7 linked regions of the Homo sapiens genome follow. The protein of the gene in region 2 interacts with the protein of the main gene of each other region in a biochemical or structural test. Each region holds a gene or a part of one and is shown on either strand. Other genes may lie near its edges. The genes, in order: PDLIM1, FAT3, PDZRN4, RADIL, GRID2IP, PDZD2 and SNTG1.

Region 1 (3,500 bases), on a different chromosome or scaffold from region 2:
CAGGCACCTGTAGTTCCAGCTACTCAAGAGGCTGAGGCAGGAGAATTGCTCTAACTTGGGAGGCGGAGGTTGCAGTGAGTTGAAATCACGCCACTGCACTCCAGCCTGGGCAACAAGAGCGAAACTCCATCTAGAAAAAAAAAATGCATACAGATAGATTAAATATGGTTGATGCAGCAAATAGTTTGCACCCATTTCTTTAAAAAAATAATAAAAAATACTTATGCTTCTGAAGCTGAGCATACCCATACCATATAACCCAACAGTTCTCCTAGTTAAATAGTCAATAGAAACTGGGTCCACATGAGTGCTAAAGGACAAGTTTGAGAATTTTCCAAGCAACACTATTCATAATAGCCCCAAATTTGAAACGATTCACATGTCTAACAGCAATAGAATAGATAAGTAGTGGGTGTAATTATATGGTATAAAACATCACAGCAACAAGAGTGAAGAAATTACAACTATGCACAGTGACATGAAGGAGACACACACACACACACACACACACACACACACACAGAGAAAAAGGCCATACCTAAGAGTGAAGAGTAAATACTGTGTGATTCCAGTTACATAAAATTAGACAGAATTAATCTACAGTGTTAGCAGTCAGGATCATGGCAGACCTTTGCCGGAAGGTCAGTGACGGAAGGCGGGCACAGGGAGGTTTAGCAGTTCAGGTAATGTCCTCTTCTTTATCCCATGCTGTTTCCTTGGGTGTGCTCTGTATGTGAGAATTCAATCAGCTGTATCGTTACCATTTGTGCTGTATACATGTCATCCTTCAGTAAAGGTTACATAGAAGCCCGCGTAATTGTTTAAAAGATCGGACAATATAAACCTACAGAAAGCATAAGGTAAAAGGCTTCCCCAGTCTTACTTTACAGAGGTAAACACAGTGAACAGCTGGCTGCAAACCTTTCCAGACTTTTTCCGCACACGTAGCATTTCTAAAACCAAATTACTATATCTCAGTGAACTATTGGGACTTCATTGCTTTGTGCTTTCTGCCTTATTTTTACTGTAACAAATCAAGAATTAAAGACATCTTAATGTCAAGGGAAAAATACATTTTTGATATCTGCTAGATCTAGTTCAAACCTTATCTTGTCCATTTACTAGCTTGTATGTTCTTGGACAGGTTAACCCCTGAAAATTCAGTGTCCTCATTTGCAATGTGGGAATAATAGCGCTTGTCTTCAAAGGTTGTGGTGAGGATTAAGATGATATATAGAGAGAGCCTAGTGGTACTATTAAACTATTAAATATTAAAAATATTAATGGTAGCTACTATATATTGAGTGTTTATTACGTGCCAGGCATTGTTCTGAACTCTTTACAAATGCAGTCTCATTTAAGCCTTCCAGCAACCTGATGAGGTTGATGCATTATAAATTTCATTTGATAAATGAAGATACTGAGTCAGAGAGAGTAATTCCCTCAAGGTTTAGTGAGTGTTTAGGCTTTGGGTTATGGGTGGTAGCTGTTGGAGCTATTTAAAAGCACGTAGGGTTCATAGGAGCTTGTTTGGAAACTTTTGAGGAACTCGACGACTTCTTGACGGAGTCTCGCTCTGTCGCCTGGGCTGGAGTGCAGTGGCATGATCTCGGCTCATTGCAACCTCCATCTCCTGGGTTCAAGTGATCCTCCCACCTCAGCCTCCCAAGTAGCTGAGATTACAAGCGTGCGCCATCACACCTGGCTAATTTTTTGTATTTTTAGTAGAGATGGGGTTTCACCATGTTGGTGAACAGGCTGGCCTTGAACTCCTGACTTCAAGTGATCCGCCCATCTCGGCCTCCCAAAGTGCTGGGATTACCGGCATGAGCCACCACGCCTGGCCTCGATGACTTCTTAAGAATTTAGTCAGAGTATTCTATTTGGCTACCTGTTTTATTATATTCCTGTCTGAGAAATGGTGGTCGGTCTTTCAGACTGAGAGAGCAGCACGTCTCTTTGAACTGTCACCCCTTAGCACTAATAACTTCTTTTTGCACCATGCATAGTGTGAAGCTGGATTAAGGTGCAACTTATCTACAAGCATCTACCCTATTTTATTGCCTCATTTCCCTGAGAAAATGGTTATAGACTAACCAAGAACATTTTAAAACAGTGTTATGTTTTCAGGTCACCCTGTGTAAATGCATACAGCTTCTGCAGCCATAATATGGCTGTGAAGTCTGTGCCACAGCCTCGGCTCACAAACATACTGAGTCAGAAGATTCTGACTAAAGAGAGTTCAAATTCCACATGTAAATGGCATCCTACAGAGCTGGGTCCTGCTTTATCCCCAGTTTAGAATCTGTTAAATTTGTACCCAAATACCTTGACACAACTGTTAAATCAGCGGAGATTATGCTTAAAGGCATGTAGCATTGCGATTGAACTTGAATCTCACATTTCTTTATCCCAGTTGTATATAATTATTACTATCGTTATTTAGGCTGTCTCTTTCACTTACTTGCAGGCTTGTCTTAGGCTTGTCTTTCACTTAGTTACACATTTACAATATTTAAAACACAAGAACACATATAAGATTTAACAAAAAATTGGAACATGGAAGAGGAAAGAGAGAGAAGTGCCAGGAACTTTAAATCAGTTGGTTCTGTAATTGCACACTACATTTAGCTGTGAGTTTTCTGGCCAAGGGAAAATAGGACCCACGTCGAGTTATTTAGATATCTTGTTTGGAGTTATTATACTTCTACTGGTTGGACGCAGTGGCTCATGCCTGTGAAACTAGCACTTTGGAAGGCCGAGGTGTGAGGATTGCTTGAGGCCAGGAGTTCAAGACCACCTTGGCCAACACAGTGAGACCCCATCTCTATTTAAAAAAAACAACAAAATTACTTATGCAATGCTTCATTTGCATAGCATTTTCAGGGGTGTTAACCAACATTACAGGGGCTGTATTTTTTTGTTTGTGTTTTGTTTGAGACAGCATCCTGCTCTATTGCCCAAGCTGGAGTGTAGTGGTGCTATCATAGCTAACTGCAGCCTCCACTTCCTCCCAGTTTAAGCGATCCTTCCACCTCAGTCTCCTTGAGTAGCTGGGACTACATGCCTGGCTAATTTTTAATTTCTTGTTCAGACAGGGTCCCACTGTGTTGCCCGGACTAGTTTCAAGATCCTGGGCTTAAGCAGTCTTCCTGCTGTGGCCTCCCAAAGTACTGGGATTATAGGCATGAGCCATCCCTGCCTGGCCTATTTTTTTTTTTTTAAGTCTGTTTTGGTAAGAGATAGAGGAATACTATTCTAATGGATATTCCTTTCAAGGGCTTTGTATGTATTTTATAGGAGTATAAGTTCTGCCCTTGAAGGTGTTTCTGGAGGAGCTGAGATTTTAGGGTCTAATTACTTTTTGTCTACCTGATGACTTTAACTTCATTCAGGGAGAGAGTTTAAGGGGAAAAGATAGTCATAGTCATCATCTCTCTTGGTGTTTCCAAACCTGATGAGCATTAACATTTTCTGGGAAGCTTTAAAAAGGTATGGGT
Region 2 (3,500 bases):
AGGAAACCAGGGCTCTAAGAGACAAAGACAAAAAAAAAGCATAATAACTTTAGCACTTTGATGTGCTTCTTATTTAATAGGGTTGGAGTGGGGGAAGTTTTTTTTATTTTTTTTTTAACATTTTACAAGGAGAAAAGTTGTCTCTTAGAATTAAACCGAATGTTGATATTCAATCATGAATCTCAGTTGTTGCCTTTTTGGAACTTGAACAATGAGTGATGCTGGGGCCAGTTTCTGTGCACAGTGCACTGGGATGAGAAAGTTCCCAGAACTGTCCAGTTATAATGTCTTCATATCATCTGAATCACACAGAGAACTCCACATGAAAGGCAGCTGGCTCAGAGATCAGAAATCAGTCAGCTGCTGGGCTGGCTCCATCTCTTGTGGCTGCAGGATTTTCACAGCCAGGGTTTGTTGACCAGCGACTGGCTCTCAAGCCTTTTAGAAATCTTTCTTTCAAATTTTATTTATTCTGGTCTCTGGCGGAGTCATTTTGGGGATTTTTTTAATAGGACCCAGTCTGTCTGTTAACTAGCAATTACAGTTGTGCTGAGCTACTCAAAAATGAAATGAGTAGCAATAAACAGTGGATACCCACTGACCTGTATGCTATACGGTTATTTTGCTAGCCCACAGCCTTTGTAAAGCTATGGCTCTTCAGGCTGCTCACAGAAGAACATTTTGATGTGTCAGGTTATGTTATCATCCCTGCTTTCTTCTTCATACGATCCTGAATGACCTTAGCTAATCTGGCTGATGAATTATGTCAAATAGAAAGAAGTAGGCAATTACCAGGCAGGAGAGGGTATTTAGTCATTACCAGCAGGTCTGAGGAGTGCTCCTGGTGGCTGTTGCGTTGTTATGCTATATTAATAGCTCACAAAGCATAAAGGACTATTGTGGCTTTATTTTACCAGTTGTGGCATTGGGGTATGGCATTCCTTCATAGCCCACATCTGTCCAGTTGCCTGGTGGGTTGGCTTTTTCCTCTAGGGCAAGAAGGAGAAAGATAGTAATGAGGATATTTGATTTTTTTTTCCATTGTGGGGTCATCCCCAGGTTTTTCTTTTTTTTCCTTCTGCAGGAGCCTTGAGTAGGGAATCATCTGATGGGAGCAGGTGGGCCTGTCCATTTGAATTGATTTCCTTTGATTGCTGAAGAAGGACTATTGATGAACCACTTCTTTGCTGATTGTGGCAAACATTAGAATTGGAATGGAAATTTAAAAGAAAGGGATCTGACAGACTTAGAGTGAAGGATTTGTGTTCTGCCCAATTCCTTCCTAGAGTTAGCAGAGCCTCTGATTTCTACAGATATGCATGGTCTTAAAAATATTAAAGGAAGCACAACTCCTGTGTATGCAGTTTTACTTATTGGTGAAATTTTCTGCAATGCTTTTTTGATCTCTAACTGTTGAATATGTCATTTTCATCATCTTTCTACCCAAATTGTGAGGAGTGGGTCTTTGTTTTTTAATATATCCTGACCTCTTGAGGATCACCACAGTGTGACAACTTTCTCTGGGAAGACTCAGAGAGTAAATATCTTTTCTGTGTTTTGGTCGATTTAATTCTACAGGCTTCTCAAACTTACTGAGTTTTCTGTCAATTGCAGGGTATCTACTCCTTTAATAAGCTTTATTCCTTTCCTTGTTTTCTTTTTTTGTTTTTTCGTGTTTTTTTTTTTTTTGTTTTTTGTTTTTTTTTACATTGCCTCCCTTTCTCCAAATTTCTAAGAATAATTTTCAGGAAAGACTGCCTTTCCTTGAAAAAGAAATTCAGCTTAATGACACAGACTGCATTTATTGAGAACATATTTGACACTTGTCTAGTGGCTTCAAGCCAGTTTCTGGTCTACCAAAATAGGCTATCAGTTACATGTAATAGTGACAAATGACCCATTCTAGCAGTTCTGAATTGGAATGGCATTTTCAGGTTAGTCTTAATTTTAGCATATTCCAGGACTTAGATTTTTTTTCTTTTTTTTTTTTTTTTTCTGCTAAGTGGAAGGGATGAAAATTTGAGAATGGATTAACTGGCATGATGATAGAAAATAGAAAACAGATTTCAGAACTTAATCAATTAAACTCTTCACATAAACAAAATATTACTTCCTTCACCAGATAGATATATATGAATGTGGAGAGCCTAGAGGAGGTGTGAGGAGGGCCACAGCATTGTCCTTCCTTGAACAATGCATTATTGAAGGTGTTGCCTACCGTGGGCGGAAAAGTCATACAGAGGACCCTGAGAGGAGTCCTTGAGCAGTTGTTAGTATTTCAACGTTCTGCTCTTCCAGGGTTCCAAAACTGTGAATTATAGACTCTTTAATAAAGGAAAGTTGTTTCTTTAACTTTTGCCTTTGTACATCTGAAATATATCCCTTTTTAAAATTCTGTAAAGTCACATGGAATTTAAAATAATTTTTTGTCTTTAAAAAATGTCTTGCTTTCTCCTCTATTTTCCCTATTTTATTTTTGTTATTTATTTATTTAGAAACAGAGTCTCGCTCCATTGCCCAGGCTGGAGTGCAGTGGCGTGTTCTTGGCTCACTGCAACCTCCGCCTCCTGGGTTCAAGTGATTCTCATGCCTCAGTCTCCCGAGTAACTGGGATTACAGGCGCACACCACCATGCCCTCTTAATTTTTATATTTTTAGTAGACAGGGTGTTTCACCATGTTGGCCAGGCTGGTCTCGAACTCCTGGCCTCAAGTGATCCACCCACCTCGGCCTCCCAAAGTGCTCGGATTAGAGGCATGAGCCACCGTCCTCAGCCCTGTTATTTATTTTTTAAAAAAATTATTTTAAAGTTCTTTTCAGCGATATTTACTGAATCTACCTCTTTCACAAGACAGTGGGCAAGATTCAAAGAATAGTAAAATATATCCATTGCTTCTGCTTCGTGCTGTTTATTGAGAAAATGAGAGATGCCTGTGTGTGTACACTAGAAGTCACATCTAAAAATGTTTATTAATTGACAAAAGAATGTCTATGAACAGGAGCCTCAAGGAGGAGGGAGAGATTAATGTGAGGTGGAGTAAACTTTTAAGAGGAGTGTAAGTTATTAAAGTGAATATAATTCCATTTAATAATTCTTACTACAGCCCTAATGTATGCAAGGCACTATGAAATAAATTAATTCCTTCATTTGTCAGGGGGCAGTGCAGAGCTCCTTTTTGGAAGAACGTATTCATGGGGCAGCCCAAATGGGCTGTCGGAATGTTAGTTAATATTTTGAGAAGACTTCAGAATTTATTCATGTCCTTTCTCCACTATCCCCTTGTGGTCTCCCACCCCCCAATTTCAAAGGTAACTTTTAGGATTTTTGAATGTGTCTGGGAGCCTGCATGCAGGTGCACATGGTGTATTCTTAGTCCTCTGTTTTCCTATGTTTGAGACTCAGTTATGAATCTCAAGGTTAACTTTGTCACAGAACACCTCAGAGTGTTCTGTCCTTTAGGTATTCATCATTTAGATCTGTTGCTTGGTTTTTTACCTTA
Region 3 (3,500 bases), on a different chromosome or scaffold from region 2:
CATTTCAAAAAAGGATGATAAATCTCTGTTGAGGAACATTTCTGATGAGGAACTATGATTATATTTTAAATTTGTAATTAATATTTTATATGTAGAGTTTGGAATAAATTATACAATACTTTTAATATTTCTTGGTGTAATATGGCTACCTTGTTCCTGTCATTATCTTTTATATGAAAGAAAAAGAGAAATACCTTTTTTTCTCTTTGTTGTGAAAACCTGGTGAGAACTCTTTGTATGTTTTAACTGTATTGTTGTATTCGGGGGTGATAAAGTGAGCACCTATATGCTAGTAAAATTGGGTTATGTTAATGAAATTTTATGTCCCTGCCATCTGCCATCTCTGTCCTTTTGACATTTTATTAACTGGTTAAGATAATATTACTTTTTGTTGCCAAAAATGGTTAAGTTACTTTTATCAGTGAGTTTATTTCCAATGGATTAGTGAAGCTATAAATAGGAATTTGGAAGGTTTACTTGACTCCACTATTGTTTTTAAAAATTCTGTTCACTCTAGGCTATATAATCACTAGTGCTATCTCTCTGAATACTTATATAAACTATCAGAATGGAGGCAGATTTTCTATATTAAATTTTAAATAAAGTTTTAGCTTTTCATTCATCCTCTGTGCACTAAACAAAGTTGAATTTTTAATGAATCGACATAGAGTAAGAGTGAAGAATATAGAAGACCCAATAGTTTGCTGTTTTGGGAAAAAAGAACACAACATTTATAAATTAGCCGACTACAAAATTTAGAAAAAAAAGAAGAGTTATCTTTTGCCAAAAAAAAAACTTTGATTTATATCTAAAGAGGTCTCTTGTATCAAGATTTTTATTCTTCCAGTTTTGTTGCCGAGAAAGTGCAGACCTACTTTTGCTGTTGCTATCCAGTTCATCTTGACAATTTGTCTAGTGGAAACATTCACATGCTGTAGCTTCTAAAGTTAGAATGTGCACAGTATGATCTAAAGGGCAACATACTTTAAACAGAAGATTGTCCCTATTACTTTCTGCATTATCTCAAAAACATATTAAGTTGTCCAGTTACCAATGGAAAATAAATTCCTACATTTGATATTATTAGAAGAACTGATGGAACTGAATACATATATTGTTACACCCACACAAACACATAGACACAACAGAAATACGTATTGGCAATTTAAAAAATAACTTATTCTAGCTAGATGACAATATTATGTATGCTTCATTAATGTTACATTAGAAAAGAAAAAGAATTTTTTATATTGTCATACAACAATTTGGTTACAAACCTACTGTTTTTTTTAAAGAGGTAATTTTATAAAACTATGGTTGAAAATCAAGTGCATCTAGACACCTACATAGTACTGTTACTAATATATGTCAGATTAACCTTATTTAAACCCTGTAAGATAAAAAGTAAGGAGGTCAACCACAGAAATTCAAATGAAATTTAACTAGCTGCGGTATTATTATTCACTTTCATTTGCATATATTAGCAGTTAATGACTAGAGCTTGAAATTTGTCTCAATGATATAGATTTTTCAATGTGTCTTTTATACCAGGGTACATTGATTTTATGTATATATGCTATAGTTGTAGAATGGATCAATGTGACCACATTTGCAGTTAAGAAATGGGTTAGATGAGGTGCATATTTCTAGAATGTTGTGTGTTAAATAGCATGAAATATTTTAGAAAGAAGATTATTAGAAATAAATTGCTCTTGCTTAGTTGTTCAGTGATGCTATCGGCTTTTTGAGTGAATAGATATTTGTGTGACTTTAATATCTAGTTAAACAAGAAGTGTGTTTTTTCTTGTGCATATGGTGTGTGTTGTAAAAGATCCCTATGTAATCATTAAAGTTAGAAATATTTGATGCTTATCATTATTTTAGTTTCTCTGTCATTATGATATCAATCAACTTTAAGCAGTTTTTAGCTAATTGGAAATTGAGAAGAAATCTATCAATTTAAAATGTGCAGATGCATATTTTAAAACAGATTTTTAAAGTAAAGATAATAATTTATTTTCTGTTTTGTGATCAAAGATTTGTTCATTGAACAAATTTAATGGCTCAATTTTTGAATTTCAAATGGTCATGCTGATTTAAACCTGGTGCAACAAGTAAGTTTGTTAACAGTGTAAAGGGTACAAACTAGTTCATATATTATAAAATTATCCGTATGACTTATGCACAATCTGACACATTACTAAATGCTTTGAATTTACTGATATATAACTGAAATAAAAAATAAAAACAATAAGAGATTCTATGGTTTATATATAGTCAAGATATGCTCAAAAATATTTTCTGTAGCTAATTGCTTGATGCACACATACAAGTTTATGAATTGTTTTTAAAAAATAATAAAATTTTCCAAAGTTATTCACTTGAAGAGGAAGTAGACATGTTAAAGGTTTTGTTCTGTTGGTGGTTAAAAAGATTTTATAAACTCTAATAAATAATATATTAGTTATAATAGTTTTGCCACAGTTCAACAAAGGCTAGTAACACGTATTATTTTTTAATATTTGCATTCTATTGATAAAATTCAAGAATAATAAAAGAATAAAAAATTACTGTCATTAGGTAAACCTATGTCATATTTTTCACATAATATAAGGCAAGTTAATTTTTGGAGTCAGTCTCCACAAGCAACTATGTTAACCAGTTTCTAGCTATTTCCACATCCATATTTGTTAAACTATTTATGCTTGTAAATTTTAAAAAATCAGTTGTGATAGTTGAGTTACACTAGGTGTCAAAATATCACTGGAGACTGAAAAGGCAGAAGATATTGTTGAAGGCATTTTGAAACATCACAGAAATTCACATACACCAAGAATTCACCACAGTATACAGCTGAATAAAAGCATGCTGTTTTTCATTCTTTCAAGAATCAAAGGAATCACAGAAAATCCCTGATCCTATCGAAGGTTGGGCACAATTCTGGAAGAAGGCATGACCATTGCTGTAGTTATCATCATGTTAGGATGCCTAAGTGGTATGTGGGAGGGAGTTGAGAAACAAAGTTCACTGTTGCTTTTAGCATCGATTCCTCTATTCTTTCTTTCTTTCTTCTTCTTCTTCTTTTCCTTGTTTTTTCTGGGTTTTTTTTTTTGGAGACAGGATCTTGCTCTGTCACCTAGGCTGGAATGCAGTGGCATGATCACAGCTCACTGCAGCCTCTACCTCTGGGACTCAAGGTATCCTCCAGCCTAAGCCTCCCAAGTAGCTGGGACTACAGGTGCACCCCACCTCACCTGGCTAATTTTTTAAAAATTTTCTGTAGAGATGGGGTTTCACCATGCTGCCCAGGCTGGTCTTGAACTCCTGGGCTCAAGCGACCTGTCCACCTTGACCTCCTGAAATGCTGGGATTACAGGCGTGAGCCATAGTGCCCAGTCTCCTCTCTTATTTCTATGATACTGATAGCAGGCAATGCAACCATAACTCCAGAGTGGGAAAGGGTGGATAATCATTCATGGCTCTTTGTTTACACTTTCTTC
Region 4 (3,500 bases), on a different chromosome or scaffold from region 2:
GGAACGAGGCCCCTCCGGGCTGGGGATGGGCCTGATCGACGGGATGGTGAGTGGCCCAGGACCCTCGCCGCACCCCCATACTGGCTGCCTGGCCCCGCCTGTTCATGCAAGCCTGGCCGCAGCTTGCGTGGCCACGTGGCTACAGGAAGGCCTTCGGGGAGGAGAGTGGGGTTGGCCTCTGCAGCTGGGAGGGGAACCCAGCCTGTCCAACGGCCACGCCCCCTGGGCCTGCTGTCTCTTGCCTCTGTCCTCAAGCCTTTGGGGTCTGTCCTGGGCCTGTGGGGACGGTGGTGTCCACTGCTTTTCTGGAGGGACGCGTGAAACCATGAGTGGGCCTGGCTGGATGCCAGGCGGGGGCCTGTAGGTGCCAAGGGAGGGGCTGCAGTGGTCCTCGCTGGGGACAGCCAGTCGGGCCTGCGGAGCTCTGAGGCCTCTGCTTGTCCCCAGCACACGCACCTGGGCGCCCCCGGGCTCTACATCCAGACCCTGCTCCCGGGCAGCCCCGCAGCGGCCGACGGGCGCCTGTCGCTGGGGGACCGTATCCTGGAGGTGAATGGCAGCAGCCTCCTGGGCCTTGGCTACCTGAGGTACCCCCACCGCATGCACGCCCGGCCCCTTCTCCCAGATGCCCTGCTCAGGGGAGTGGACCTGGGGTAAAGGAGAGGCCCGGCTGCACCCTGTGGGTCTCCCCTGGTGCCCTCCTGCCCACCCCCACCTCTGGCATGGATTTCAGAGCTGTGGACCTGATCCGTCATGGCGGGAAGAAGATGCGGTTCCTGGTCGCGAAGTCCGACGTGGAAACAGCCAAGAAGATCCATTTCCGCACGCCCCCTCTCTAGGGGGGCTGCGAGGACACCCCCACAGGCCCGGCACCCGGTCCCACCTGGTGACACTGGGCTTCCTCCCGCCTTCGTCCCTGTTTTGTAACTGACCAAGTTGGGTCCCGGGTGGGGAGCCTCACCCTGGGGACATGCCTGTTGATAACATGCATCTCAGTGTAGGTTCTATTTATATGGCAGATGACGTGAAATTGTGATGTTTGTTACAGAGCTTTTATGTTTAAAGACTTCAATGGAGAAGTACGGTTCAATAAACTATTTTTCCCGTTCTTAGAGGGTGCCCTGCTGGGGTCTCAACTCGGGCAGCAGGCGTGGGCTGCTCGGAGGGGCCGCAGGGGCTCCCCATGGCCTCTGCCTGCCACCGGCACGGGAGAATGCAGTGACAGCTGTCATCAGGGGATCATCTGAACTGACTCTCCCTGCCCCCGTCCCACCCAGACACAGGGCACTGCAGGAAGCAGCTCCAACAGCCCCTCCCAGCTGAAGCAGGGCCAGACCTGGCAGAGGATGCTGGACTTCTGATCCCGCTGCTCAGCACAGGCCCCAGAGAAAGGTCTAGACACCCAGGCGTTGGAAAGTGGACCGGCCTGATGGTCTCTGAGGCGCCGAGCCCACCCTGGGCCCTGCTTCCTCTCCCAGGACTCCTGCTCCCTCCTGAGTTCCTCTCCCCTACTAAAGCCACCAGCGTGGCCCTGATACCAGGCTGGCGGCCCCAGGCCCTTAATCCTCACCAGCGTCCCCCTGGCCACCGGCCCTAACCCGGGCAGGAGGCCAGCGTCCCTCTCCACCAGCTGGCTGACCATGCGCAGGACCAGGGCAGGGCACTTGCTGCCTCGGGGTGACAGCGTGGGTCGCTGGGCATCCTCAGCAGCTCCACCAACTGGGTGTGGGTGGCTTCCGCGCCCTCCTGGCTGTGGTGGAACTGGTGGCCCAGGGTCATCTTTGATAGCAACAGAGAAACCCTGGGGAAGAGGGTCCCGGCATCAGTTGCAGATGCACCTCTCACTGGGACAGAGGTCTGTGCGGGGTCCCCAGATCGGTGTCCTGGGTCTGTCCCAGGCCCTGGGCCTCGTGCAGCTCCACGCTGCCCCCTGGTGTGCGCTACGGCGAGGTGCAGCGCGTCCGCCCCGCGCCCTCTGCCGACCCGCAGTTCTGTGTGCGGCTCCGCATTGCGCCTGGCTCGAAACGGCGACCACTGCCAGGTTCCCAAAATACTGGATAAAATATATATATATATATAGTGTTTGTATATATATTTAAGATATGTAAAATATATGAATATATATAAATATATAATTATATATGAATATATTACATATTCATGTATACGTAATATATTCGTATATTTTATAAACATTTTTTATATTTTATTATATAAAATATAAATATTTAATTTTTTTTTATGAGACGGAGTCTCGCTCTGTGACCCAGGCTGGAGTGCAGTGGTGCAATCTCAGCTCACTGCAACCTCCACCTCCCAGGTTCAAGCAATTCTCCTCAGTCTCCTGAGTAGCTGGGATTACAGGCGCCTGCCACCACGCTTGGCTAATTTAGTACTTTTAGTAGAGACAGGGTTTCACCACGTTGGCCAGGCTGATTTCAAACTGACATCAAGTGATCTGCCCGCCTTGCCCTCCCAAAGTGCTGGGATTACAGGCGTGGGATTACCATGCCTGGCCTTGTTCTGTTTCTTTTCCTAGGAGTCCCACAACGTGTGTGTTAGCACTGCCGAGAATGTCTCACAGCTCTGGACGGTCTGCATTTCTGGACCTGGTGCAGATCCCAGGATCCTGGACTCTGATTTGATGCCTTAACGGTGGAAGGGGGTTGAGTATATTTTTTATGTGGGAGGGGTGTGGACTGTGGCCAGAGGAAAGACAGTGGCAAGGCATTTCCAAAGGTGGCCACCAACAGTTCCTCCCACAAAGAGAAGGGGGCTTATCTCTTCTTCCCTGCAATATTCTCCGGCCTTCTGACTTGCTCCGAACAACAGGATGCAGCATAAGTGATATTCTGGGACCTTCCAAGCCAGACTGAAGGGCCTTTGGTTTCTATTTTCATGCTCCTGGAACTCAGCATCCATGGAAAGAAGCTCTTGGCATCACCCCAAGGAAGGGAGGCCCCGTGGAGTCGGGGAGGCCCAGCTAGCCTCTGGCCGCTGAAGCACCTAGCTGAGGTGCGGGACTGGTGAGGGCTGCCACTGGCTGTTCTGGTCTTGCTGAGCTTCCAGGCGAATGCAGTCCCACCAGTGATCCCGGGGACACCACGTGGAGCAGAACGACTTCCCAGCCAGGCCCCAGACAATCTACAACACTGTGAAAGGTAACACTTCTTATGGGTGTTTTGTTTTTTGGTTGTTTTGTTGATGGAGTTTCACTCTGGTCACTCAGGCTGAAGTGCAATGGTGCAATACGGCTCACTGCAACCTCCGCCTCCCAGGTTCAAGTGATTCTCCTGCCTCAGTCTCCTGACTGGGATTACAGGCACCTGTCAGCACACGCAGCTGATTTTTGTATTTTTAGTAGAGACCAGGTTTCACCATGTTGGCCAGGCTGGTCTCAAAACTCCTGACCTCAGGTGATCTGCCTGCCTCGGCCTCCCAGAGTGCTGGGATGACAGGCGTGAGCCACCGTGCCCGGCCTGTTTTTGTGTTTTAAAAGC
Region 5 (3,184 bases), on a different chromosome or scaffold from region 2:
GAGACTCTGTCTCAAAATTAATTAATTAATTAATTAAAGGCAGCCTCTGCAAAGGAAATTGACCTGGCACATCAGACAGGCATAGGCCCAAATCCTGGCTCATTTCCTTACCTGCTGTGGGACTATGGGCAAGTCAGTTACCCTCTGTGAGCCCAGTTTTCTCATCAGGAAAAAGAGGGGTCATGAGAACCTCTACCACAGTGGTCATTAATTGATGTGACCCTGGTGGGTTCAACCGTGGCTCAGGCACCACAGTGCTTGCTGTGTGATCTTGGGCTAGTTGCTAAAGTCCTGTGTGCTTTAATTTGTTCACATGTAAAATAGAGATAATCTACCTCATAGAGGTGTTAAACGATGATTCAACAAGCTTGGAACAAAGCTCGGCACCATTTTAAGTGCTGAAAAAATGATAGCGATTCAGCCACTGAATCTTTTTGCAAGACTGACCATGTATCAGATGCTATTCTAAGCCCTGGAGGTGCAAGGAGGGAGCGAGCTTTCACTTAGGCAGTAGGAAATGAACTTATGAACAATTTCAGATCATGACAAATGCTCTAGAAAACAGAGTAAGGCCTAAGGCCAGGTGCAGTGGCTCACACCTGTAATCCCAGCACTTTGGGAGGCCAAAGTGGGAGGATCACTTGAGCCCAGGAGTTTGAGACCACCCTAGGCAACATACACCCCATCTCTATTTTAAAAATCAAAAAATTAGCTGGGTATGGTGGTGTAAACCTCTGGTCCCAGCTGCTCGGGAGGCTGAGGTGGGAGGATCACTTGAGCCTGGGAGGTAGAGGCTGGAATGATCTGTGAGCTGTGATCACACCACTGCACTCCAGGCTGAGCGACAGAATAAGACCCTGTCTCAAAAAAAAAAAAAAAAAAAAAAAAAGTAAGGCCTAGAGAGTGACAGAGGGGCCTACTGTAAATGAGTGGTTGGGGAAGAAGGTGGCAGTGGAAGCCTCTGATCAGAGACCCAGGGCCTGGCCCTGCAGAGAGAACAGGGGTGAATGGCCTGAGGCTGCACTGGCTGTGGCCAGTTCCAGGATGAGTTCAGTGGCCAGTGGGACTAGAGTCCCTGAACAGGGCCTGGTTCCCTGTTGGACACAGGGCCTGGCCCTTGGAAGGACTCAGGCCAACCGGGAATAGGGCTGCTAGGGACCTGTCTGTCGGGCCACCACCTGAGACCCTGGGGGCACAAGCGGGCTGGCTGTTTCCTTAACTGAGGCCTGTCAGTCCTTCCTGGAGACGGCCCAGCCAGCACTTCGGGCGCTCGACGGGCTGCAGCGCGAGGCCATGGAGGAGCTGGGCAAGGCGCTGGCCTTCTTTGGGGAGGATTCCAAGGCCACCACCTCTGAGGCTTTCTTCGGCATCTTTGCAGAGTTCATGAGCAAATTCGAGGTGAGCCTCGCTGGAGCCCTGAGGGGCCCTTTTGGAGAGGTGGGGGCCAGAGGCCAAATGAAGGGATCCTCCATGAAGCCAGGGCTGGGAAAGGGGCTCCAGTGAGCGACATGTCCCCCTAACCCCCTGATGGGCTGTCTAGTGTGGGAAGAGACAGGGAAGGCGTCACAGGTTCCTGGGACCACTGACCACCCTACCTCTGTGTTCCCCCTCCCCAGCGAGCGCTGAGTGACCTGCAGGCCGGGGAGGGCCTGCGCAGCTCCGGGATGGTTTCACCCCTGGCCTGGTGACAGTGGCCACACCGCGTCCTCTGCGGCCTGAGCAGGGAGATGGAGGCCGAGAGGGCAGCCCAGACACTGCCGAGGTCCGGGGCCACTGTGCCCCGGGCTCTGAGCACACCGCCAGCCTCTCCTGCAGCTACCTCAGCCGCCGAGCTGTGGTCGGGCCCTCCTCTGCCAGCCCTTGTTCCTACCCCCAGGCCCAGAGCCAGATGCTGTAGGAGCAGGTGCTGAGTGTGCCTGCACATGGAGGACCGTGCTCTGTCGGCTTCTTGGGCCCACTTCCCACTTCGCTCCCAGGCTGTCAGGGGGGCCTGGAGGGTGGATTACAAAGTGGCCACATTCCTGGGACATGTGGACCTTTTTTCTGATCCTGCTCCTAGTGGGTCCCTGTGAGGGGGCCGACACCCTTGAGCACGACCCTGCAGGCAGGCGCGAGACGCGAGAGGGCAGAAAGCCGGATGTAGAGGGGCCCTGGGGATGTGCACGCCCAGCCTGGGCCTTGGAAGCTGGCTTCAGGGACACAGGAAGAGAGAAGCCTGGGAGAGACGCAGGGAAGGAAGGACTGGAGAAGGAAGACCCCCTATGTCAGACTGCGGAATTGAGGTTTCATGCAGTGGACAAACCCAAACCTGTGTAGAGGTGGCCCAATTGGAAGTGGGGAGCCTGGGAGTGGAATAGGTGTGGTCAAGGTAGAGCAGACAGAATGGGGAGGTGTTGAGGCAGGAGGTGAGCAGGATCTGGTGGCCAACTGCCAGACTTCTCACCTGGACGGATGGTGATGTTCCCTGGAGCAAGTCATGAGACCGGGGCAGGTGTGGGGGCAGATGACACAATCTGGGATGTGTTTGGGACCCAAATGGTCATTTTACATGTGCCTAGGCATATAGCAGGAGTTACCTGGATACCAGGAGCAGGAGCAGGTGGCGTGGTGGGCAGGGAGGGAGGGTGTGTGAACTGTTTCACCTTTTTTAAAATTCTCTGATTGACAGATCCTTGGATCAGACAGCTTCCCTCGTTGCACTTTTTTTTTTTTTTTTTTTTGGAAAAGTCTGAAATGGGCTTTAATCCTGTCTCATGGATTCTTTTTCTCCCACTGCAATCAAATGGCTTACATTGCACCTGGGCAGTACTGGGAACCTGTTCAGTTCTTCCCAGTCTCCCCTAGGCCCCTCTTGGAAGCCACCTTTGTTTTTTTGTTCCTTGCACACAAGCACCATACAAAAACATCAAAACCAAAATATATACTGCAAGGGGGATGTGGCTAGTGGGGTACATTTCACCCTAGCAGCTCAAGCAGAATTGTTTCCAAAAGTTCCCAGTGCCTGTGTCTCTGGGAAACATGTCAGGAGGTCAGTTAAAACCTCTGCAGGCAGGGCGTGGGGGCTCACGCCTGTAATTCCAACACTTCGGGAGGCTGAGGCAGGTGGATCACCTGAGGCCAGAAGTTCAAGACCAGCCTGGCCAACATAGTGAAGCCATATCTCTACTAAAAATACACAAAATTA
Region 6 (3,500 bases), on a different chromosome or scaffold from region 2:
TTTGAGTCTTGTGCGTATATGGGTGTGAATAAATATATAGTCCTGTGCTTTTTTTGTCTTTTTGCCAAAAAAAAAAAAAAAATCCACTGTGGTAGTCACCAGTACCTAACAACCTTTTTAAACCTCATACATCCACACGAAATAATATTTGAGCAGCCTGCTGGCATCAGTAAGACTGCTCCTCAGCCCATGGGCCTGACCTAGCAGGCTGTCCCTCGCACTGACCACTCTGCTGTCAGCACACCCATAGCCTACTCTAGGAAACCGCACTGCTATCCTGCAGGCTCTTCTACACCCGACATCACCTGGAGAGGCTGCTGGGCCTTCCACCCCACGGATGTGCTGTAACGAGTCAACCTTCCTCCCATGATTGGGCATTTCGAACGTTTCCAGAGAAAAGGTTGTCTTGAAAGGTGACAACCAAAGGCTGCCTCAGTGTAACCTCGTCTCCCTCAGATGAAGACCTTTTAAGTTACAGACTTTGCAATAAAGTCAAATTGCTAACATGAATTGCCTGTTTAGGTTTATTCAGTGAGCGAATATGAAATTTGTTTATTTTTGAGACGGATTCTTGCTCTGTCGCTCAGGCTGGATGGAGTACAGTGGCTCGATCTCGGCTCACTGCAACCTCCGCCTCCCAGGTTCAGGCAGTTCTCCTGCCTCAGCCTCCCAAGCAGCTGGGATTACAGACGTGCACCACCACACCTGGCTAATTTTTGTATTTTTAGTAGAGATGGGATTTCCCCATGTTGGCCAGGCTGGTTTCGAACTCCTGACCTCAAGTGATCTGCCTGGCCTCAGCATCCCAAAGTGCTGGGATTACAGGCATGAGCCACCGCCCACGGCCTGAATATGAAATTTAAAAACAGAGTTTAAATCCCCTCCTTTTGTGTCATTGCTACTCCCCACCACCACCCGCACTACCGCCCATATTTGCTGTCACCAGAAGCAGGAACATTATGCTTAAGGGGAAGTTCAAAAAAGGTTGAGCAGAGAAGGAGAAGAGCACGTGGCTTTGAGTCTTGGCAGGCCCCTGGCCTTCCACAGTGGGCCTGGAAAGCTAGTAGCTAGTACGGTCTCCATGGGGATCTCGACGATCCAACCTTTTGATTGCCAAGGGCTCTCCACACAGAGGCCACATAGTCAGGGTTTAGGCAGTAGCATGGGCTGTGGAGCCAGCTTCCTGGGGCGACCGCTGGCTCTGCCACCTGTGAACTCTGACCTCAGACACATTGCTTAACCACGCTGTTTCTCCGTCCTCATCCTTCCAATGCAGATGGTCACAGGACATACCTCAGTGTTAGGAGGAAAATTAAATGTGTACAAAACTCTTAGCACAGTGTTAACTCCTTAATTATTGGAAAACCTCTTAGCACAGGGCTGAGTCCTAATAATTAGTTCTTAATTATTCACATAGCAAGGTCAGCAGGTTAAAAAAATGCAATTAAGATGATTTTATGTGAGAGCTGTGGAACGAACATAATATTTGGGGAAGAGTTGGTTTGACTTAATTCTCAAACCAAGAGCTTTCATGGAACTTCATTTTTCACTCCAACCTCAGACCCATAGTTCCTAAGAAAATAGCTTTGTTCTTTCTGATGCCAGATTTTTTTTCCCTGTTGCAAGATGCTGTGTGTCTGAGGTGGAAGATTAGCCCAAGACTATGCAGGGCCTTATGAACAGGCACTTTCAGGAGTGAGTGGCTGTTGGAACCCACCTCCTAGATGACTTCCCACTGTCCACTGGCACACATCCCCTTGCCCTGCCACCTCCAAGATTTCAGGCTCTTTCTTGCTTCTCTGCTTTCATTCTGTTGCCTTTTTTTTTTTTTTTTTTTTTTTTTTGAGACAGAGTCTTGCTCTGTTGCCCAGGCTTGAAGGCAGTGGTGCAATCTCAGCTCACTGACCTCTACCTCCTGGGTTCAAGCGAATCTCGTGCCTCAGCCTCCCAAGTAGCTGGGATTACAGGTGCATGCCACCATGCCTGGTTAATTTTTGTATTTTTCGTAGAGATAGGGTTTCACCATGTTGGCCAAGCTGGTCTCAAACTCCTGACAAGTGATCCACCTGCCTTGGCCTCCCAAAGTGCTGGGATTACAGGCGTGATCCACCGTGCCCAGCTGCCTTTTTTTTTTTTTAATTGACACATAATTGTACATACTTATGGAGCACAAAGTGGTACTTCAGTACATATATACATTGTGCAATGATTAAATCAGGGTAATTAGCATATCCATCACATCAAATGTATCATGTCTTTGTGGTAGGAACATCCCAAATTCTCTCTTCTAGCTATTTCAATAAATGCAATACCTTATTATTATTTTTTTTTTTTGAGACGGAGTCTTGCTCTGTTACTCAGGCTGGAATACAATGGCATGATCTTGGCTCACTGCAACTCCACCTCCCAGGTTCAAGCGATTCTCCTGCCTCAGCCTCACAAGTAGCTGGGATTACAGGCGTGTGCCACCACACTCAGCTAATTTTTGTATTTTTAGTAGAGACGGGAATTTCACCATGTTGGCCAGGCTGGTCTCGAACTCTTGACCTCAGGTGATCCACCCGCCTTGGCCTCCCAAAGTGCTGGGATTACAGGCGTGAGCCACCATGCCCAGCCCTGTTTTTGTTGTGTTGTTGTTGTTTTGTTTTGTCTTTTGTTTTTTTTACACTCAAACTGCCTTGGCTATTCAGAGTCCTTTGTGGTTCCATGCACATTTTACAACTGTTTTTTTTTTTTCTATTTCTGTAAAAAATGTCATTGGAATTTTGGTAGGAATTGTACCGAATCTATAGATGACTTTGGGTAGTATGGACATTTTAACGGTACTCTTCCATTGTCTTCCTTACCTTCCTCCTCCTCACTCTCTGGCCAAACTCCCCTTGTCAGCCCCATTCATGTCCCCACCTCCTCTGTCAAGTCTTCCTGGGATAATCTGGCTTCTCACTCTCCCACTCCTCTGAATTCGTCAAGACAGCCAGAGCTCGGTGTAGACCTGTATCCCAGCTTTCGTATTCTGTATGTTTTCCCTAGTTAGCCTCAGCCCCTGCACTAAAAAGGAAGCCTCTTGAGCTCGGCACTTGGACTGTTTTACACTGAAGTACATCATTCACATCCCCCAGTGTGAGCCAAACCCACACACCACTGGCCAGATACTGGGACTGAGAGGTCCATGAGGGCCCTGCTGCATCCACGCAGGAGTAGGGAACCAAATAGAACAAGAGCCTGACGCTTGCGGCTTTGCCATCAGAGGGTGAATGGCATAAAGAGACCCAAGTGTGCAATGATTAAATCAGGGTAATCAGCATATCCATCACATCAAATGTATCATTTCTTTGTGGTAGGAACATCTGCCATCATAGAAATACCAAAAGAGAGAAAAATGGGCAGATGTAAATGTTTCTTCTGCCGGCTAATCTGAGTTCTCTTAGAGCGTCTAAAGCAGGGTGGTATTTGTTAGATGTGGGTACTCTATAATTTTAGAGAGAAAACCAGGAAGACAA
Region 7 (3,500 bases), on a different chromosome or scaffold from region 2:
CCCAGGCCTTAGGAGTCACTGCACAGCCCAACACTATGCCTCCCAAACAAATCCCCTCCTGTACTGGTGGGGGAAGGGGGTGAAGTGAAAGATGGGGTGAGCCTGGTTCCAGCATGCCAATGGCTGGAGCCCATGCCATACTTGATTCTCGGTTCTGGCTGTGGGAACCTCTTCCCTGCTTGAGCACCAGATCCCCAGGATACTGTTAGAGCCTCTTTAATGACAAAGGCTGCCACTGCTGCTAGTTTTCAGGACTGTGCACAGCTTGCAAAGAGCTAGGATCAAGAATGGTGTTCTGTTGTAGGTTCCAAGGTCTCGGGAAGTGCATGGGACACTTCCCAGAGCAGGTACTTCTTACAGTCTCCCAGCCACATCCCAAGGTAGATCTAGGGCTTAGAAAAGTCATGGTGCTCTACCGTGGCCTGAATTATATGATTCTATAGTGGGAAATTGGACCACAGAAAGATACTCACTCACCCTCTCCCATATTGGGAATTTACTCTCTTCTCATTTTCAGCCAGTCCCACAGCCACACAGGCTGACTGTTCTTCTTTTTCTGGTCAGATTTTGGAGTTTCTTCGTGTGTTACTGTTGAACTCCTGTGTTCTCTCTTGGATAATATGTTTGTAAACAAAAAAGTTACTGAGGTGGATCTTAATCAATTAGAGATTTATTTTGCCAAGGTTGAGAACATGCCTGGGAAAAAGAAACACAAATCACAAGGAGATCTGTACCCTGTGCTTTTTTTTAAAAAGGGTTCTGGGAACTTCAATATTTAACAGGGAAAAAGCAAGCAGGAAGAGGAAGAAAGAAAAAAAGTCTGGGTAGGCAATGAGATAAGTGGTCACATTCTTGTGAGGATCTTACTAATGAGCAGAAAAGCTACATTTTACATAAAGTAAACATGAAATTACAGCTTTTTGGGAATGAAAGGAAGGCAGTTTTTTCATGACTAACTACCTAAACTTAGCCCTTTGGTATAGTGAGTTTGGGGTCCCAATATTTGATTTTGCTTTCATATGTGCAAAGTGTGATTGTCTACACACCATTGTCATTCTTCTAAGTGGATGAAGTACCCTGGAAAAGCATCTAGTCAGCCATCTTGAAAAAAAAACCTGTTGTTTCTTTGTAATATTGCTTTATAAATCTGAGAGAACTTGGAACAAATCTAACAAAATAGAAGATACTTCTGGAGAAGTGAGAAAATTGAGAAAAATGCAACTGATGAGTTCTTGATATGTTTAGCTATTATTATTATCATTACTATTATTAAATGATACTTTCCAGTTGGCAAAAAAGTATTCTGGAGGCTATTCTTTCTACTGGGGCATAAGTCAAACTATGACAAAAGAGAAATGCATGCAGAGAGCAAGCCATAGAAGGCAAGTTAGGAAATGATACGAATATTTATCTGTATTTATTTTATTGAATCAATACTGACAACAAAAATTTCCAACATTAAGTACTTCCAAGTATTAGATACTAAGCAAAGAATTAAATATAGTATCTTATTTAATCATCAGATCAATTAATTATTTCCACTTTAGTGATGAGTGAAGGAAGCTATATATATGGTAATCAACTTGACAAGGATTACCTATTAATAAATAAAAGAGAGGAGATTCAAATCAAGACAGAATTCTGAAGCTAGAACTTTTGTTCTTATCACCTTATAACAGCTCCTGCATGTGTGTTAGAGAGAGAATGAGGGTGAGAAAGAGGAATATATACATTCTTATTTAAACCTATGTGGATAATCGTGTAAATACTCCTTATTATACTAATACTTCTAGTCAATGCCAGTCTCTAAGAGTATCTTATTTAGTTTTTCAGTTAGTTATATATATATTATTACTTGCATATAACTTGATAATGACTGCAACCGTAAAGGAACACAATCTTTTGAAATGTTATAGGCAGCAAAGGTAGAAACTCTAGTAAAAGAAATCTAGTGTCAATGATTTTAGATGATTATGTTGAAAGTAGATCTTTAAAATGATTGAGCTATAGTCACTTTTCACTAAATTTCTGATAAAGGAACCCCTGCTTTTTCCAAAGTTTCTCCTCCTCCCACCCATCCACTCTTAGCCATCTAAAGCTTAGAGTCTATGCTGCCCCCTTCTCACTTAACTCTCCAATATCTTTTCCTGGCAGGTGCATTCTATGAATTTCTTAGCAGGATCACCTGGTCTTTTTCAGGCTTGCACCAGGTTGCTCTTGCATTTGTCTTTAAGTCCTTGATGGTACTACAGTCTCTCCCTACAATACAACTTTCCCCCTCCTACTTTCCCTCAAGATGATTTATCGTTCCTTATTCTGCTTCCTTAGCATGTTACCTCTATAGCACTGTCATATGCTCGTTATTTTAACATATTTCTCTCCCTCACTAAAATGAGACCTGGGTGCTCAGATGCCATTTGCAGTGTGAGTCAGTTCATGAGAAGTATATTATAAATAACAACAGGAAATGGCAAGAAGTTTTCAGAGATGCTGAAACTATATTTGCAGAGTTGATTAGAGGATGCTTTGTCTGAGAGAGAGTCACGACTTGGGTAATATAACAGAAGATCTTAAATTGAGTTTTAAAAGAGCAAAGGAGTAAAGTTTTGCTAAGAGAATAGAAAATCTTACATGAAGTCCATTTTAAGATCCTATTGCTACATGTGATTTATGAAAAGGAAAAAATAACAAAATTTTCTGACTAATAATGACATTAGATAATATTTTTTATTATAAGGAAAATGAAGGGCAATTTAATAAACCATAAAATTGGCAAGGTTTCTGGAAACTGCAACGTTTAGTTATAGATTTTTGCCAATTTATCAATTTAAAAAGCTAAGGTAGATGTTGAAATATCTGCAGTATAAAGAGAGGGCATACTAAAATTTTTGCTATAGTAGCTTGTCATTATACTGTGTTCAAGTCCAAAATTTATAACCAGATCAATCATCCCATGTCCTTCCCTAGCTTCAGCTCTCAATGTTTCTGCCTCCTTTTCTTTGAATTTCTGAAATGCCTGACTTGGCCCCAGCCAGTCCCATCCACTCTCTGGAAAGAACACCCTTTTTCTATACTTTATCTTTGATATTCTACTCGTTTTCAGCCACTGTTTAAAATTTACTTCCTAGAGAACATTTCTCTAGCTTTTCAATCTATTGTGATATAATACCTTTTTCTTCCTCTTCTTCTTCTTCTTCTTCTTCTTCTTCTTCGTGTTCCTCTTCCTCTTCTTCTTCCTCCTCTTTTTCTTCCTCTTCTTCTTCTTCCTTCTTCTTCTTCTTCTTTGCCTTCCTCTTCCTCTTCATCTTCCTCTTTTTCTTCTTCTTTTTCTTTTTCTTCTCCTTCTTCTCCTTCTTCTTCTTCTTCTTTCTCTTCCTCTTCCTCCTCCTCCTCCTCTTCTTCTTCTTCTTCTTCTCCTCCTCCTCCTCCTCCTCCTTCTCCCTCTTCTTCTTCCTCTTTTTGAGATGGAGTTTCCCTCTGGTTGCCCACGCTGGAATGCA

Evidence for each region.
Region 1: the proteins of FAT3 (region 2) and PDLIM1 interact in a test that uses a peptide from one of them, tested with the Homo sapiens proteins (one large-scale study listed by IntAct).
Region 3: the proteins of FAT3 (region 2) and PDZRN4 interact in a test that uses a peptide from one of them, tested with the Homo sapiens proteins (one large-scale study listed by IntAct).
Region 4: the proteins of FAT3 (region 2) and RADIL interact in a test that uses a peptide from one of them, tested with the Homo sapiens proteins (one large-scale study listed by IntAct).
Region 5: the proteins of FAT3 (region 2) and GRID2IP interact in a test that uses a peptide from one of them, tested with the Homo sapiens proteins (one large-scale study listed by IntAct).
Region 6: the proteins of FAT3 (region 2) and PDZD2 interact in a test that uses a peptide from one of them, tested with the Homo sapiens proteins (one large-scale study listed by IntAct).
Region 7: the proteins of FAT3 (region 2) and SNTG1 interact in a test that uses a peptide from one of them, tested with the Homo sapiens proteins (one large-scale study listed by IntAct).

What each region holds. Positions count from the first base shown.
Region 1 is NC_000010.11:95,281,004-95,284,503, reverse strand, and holds part of PDLIM1 (PDZ and LIM domain protein 1), read left to right. Parts: intron 1-3,500. UniProt on the Homo sapiens protein: Cytoskeletal protein that may act as an adapter that brings other proteins (like kinases) to the cytoskeleton. Involved in assembly, disassembly and directioning of stress fibers in fibroblasts.
Region 2 is NC_000011.10:92,227,818-92,231,317, forward strand, and holds part of FAT3 (protocadherin Fat 3 isoform 1 precursor), read left to right. Parts: intron 1-3,500.
Region 3 is NC_000012.12:41,194,820-41,198,319, forward strand, and holds part of PDZRN4 (PDZ domain-containing RING finger protein 4), read left to right. Parts: intron 1-3,500.
Region 4 is NC_000007.14:4,796,717-4,800,216, reverse strand, and holds the end of RADIL (ras-associating and dilute domain-containing protein), read left to right. Parts: coding exon 1-46; intron 47-447; coding exon 448-587; intron 588-733; coding exon 734-839; 3' UTR 840-3,162; downstream 3,163-3,500. UniProt on the Homo sapiens protein: Downstream effector of Rap required for cell adhesion and migration of neural crest precursors during development.
Region 5 is NC_000007.14:6,496,278-6,499,461, reverse strand, and holds the end of GRID2IP (delphilin), read left to right. Parts: intron 1-1,233; coding exon 1,234-1,398; intron 1,399-1,616; coding exon 1,617-1,688; 3' UTR 1,689-2,684; downstream 2,685-3,184.
Region 6 is NC_000005.10:32,083,131-32,086,630, forward strand, and holds part of PDZD2 (PDZ domain-containing protein 2), read left to right. Parts: intron 1-3,500.
Region 7 is NC_000008.11:50,698,407-50,701,906, forward strand, and holds part of SNTG1 (gamma-1-syntrophin), read left to right. Parts: intron 1-3,500. UniProt on the Homo sapiens protein: Adapter protein that binds to and probably organizes the subcellular localization of a variety of proteins. May link various receptors to the actin cytoskeleton and the dystrophin glycoprotein complex.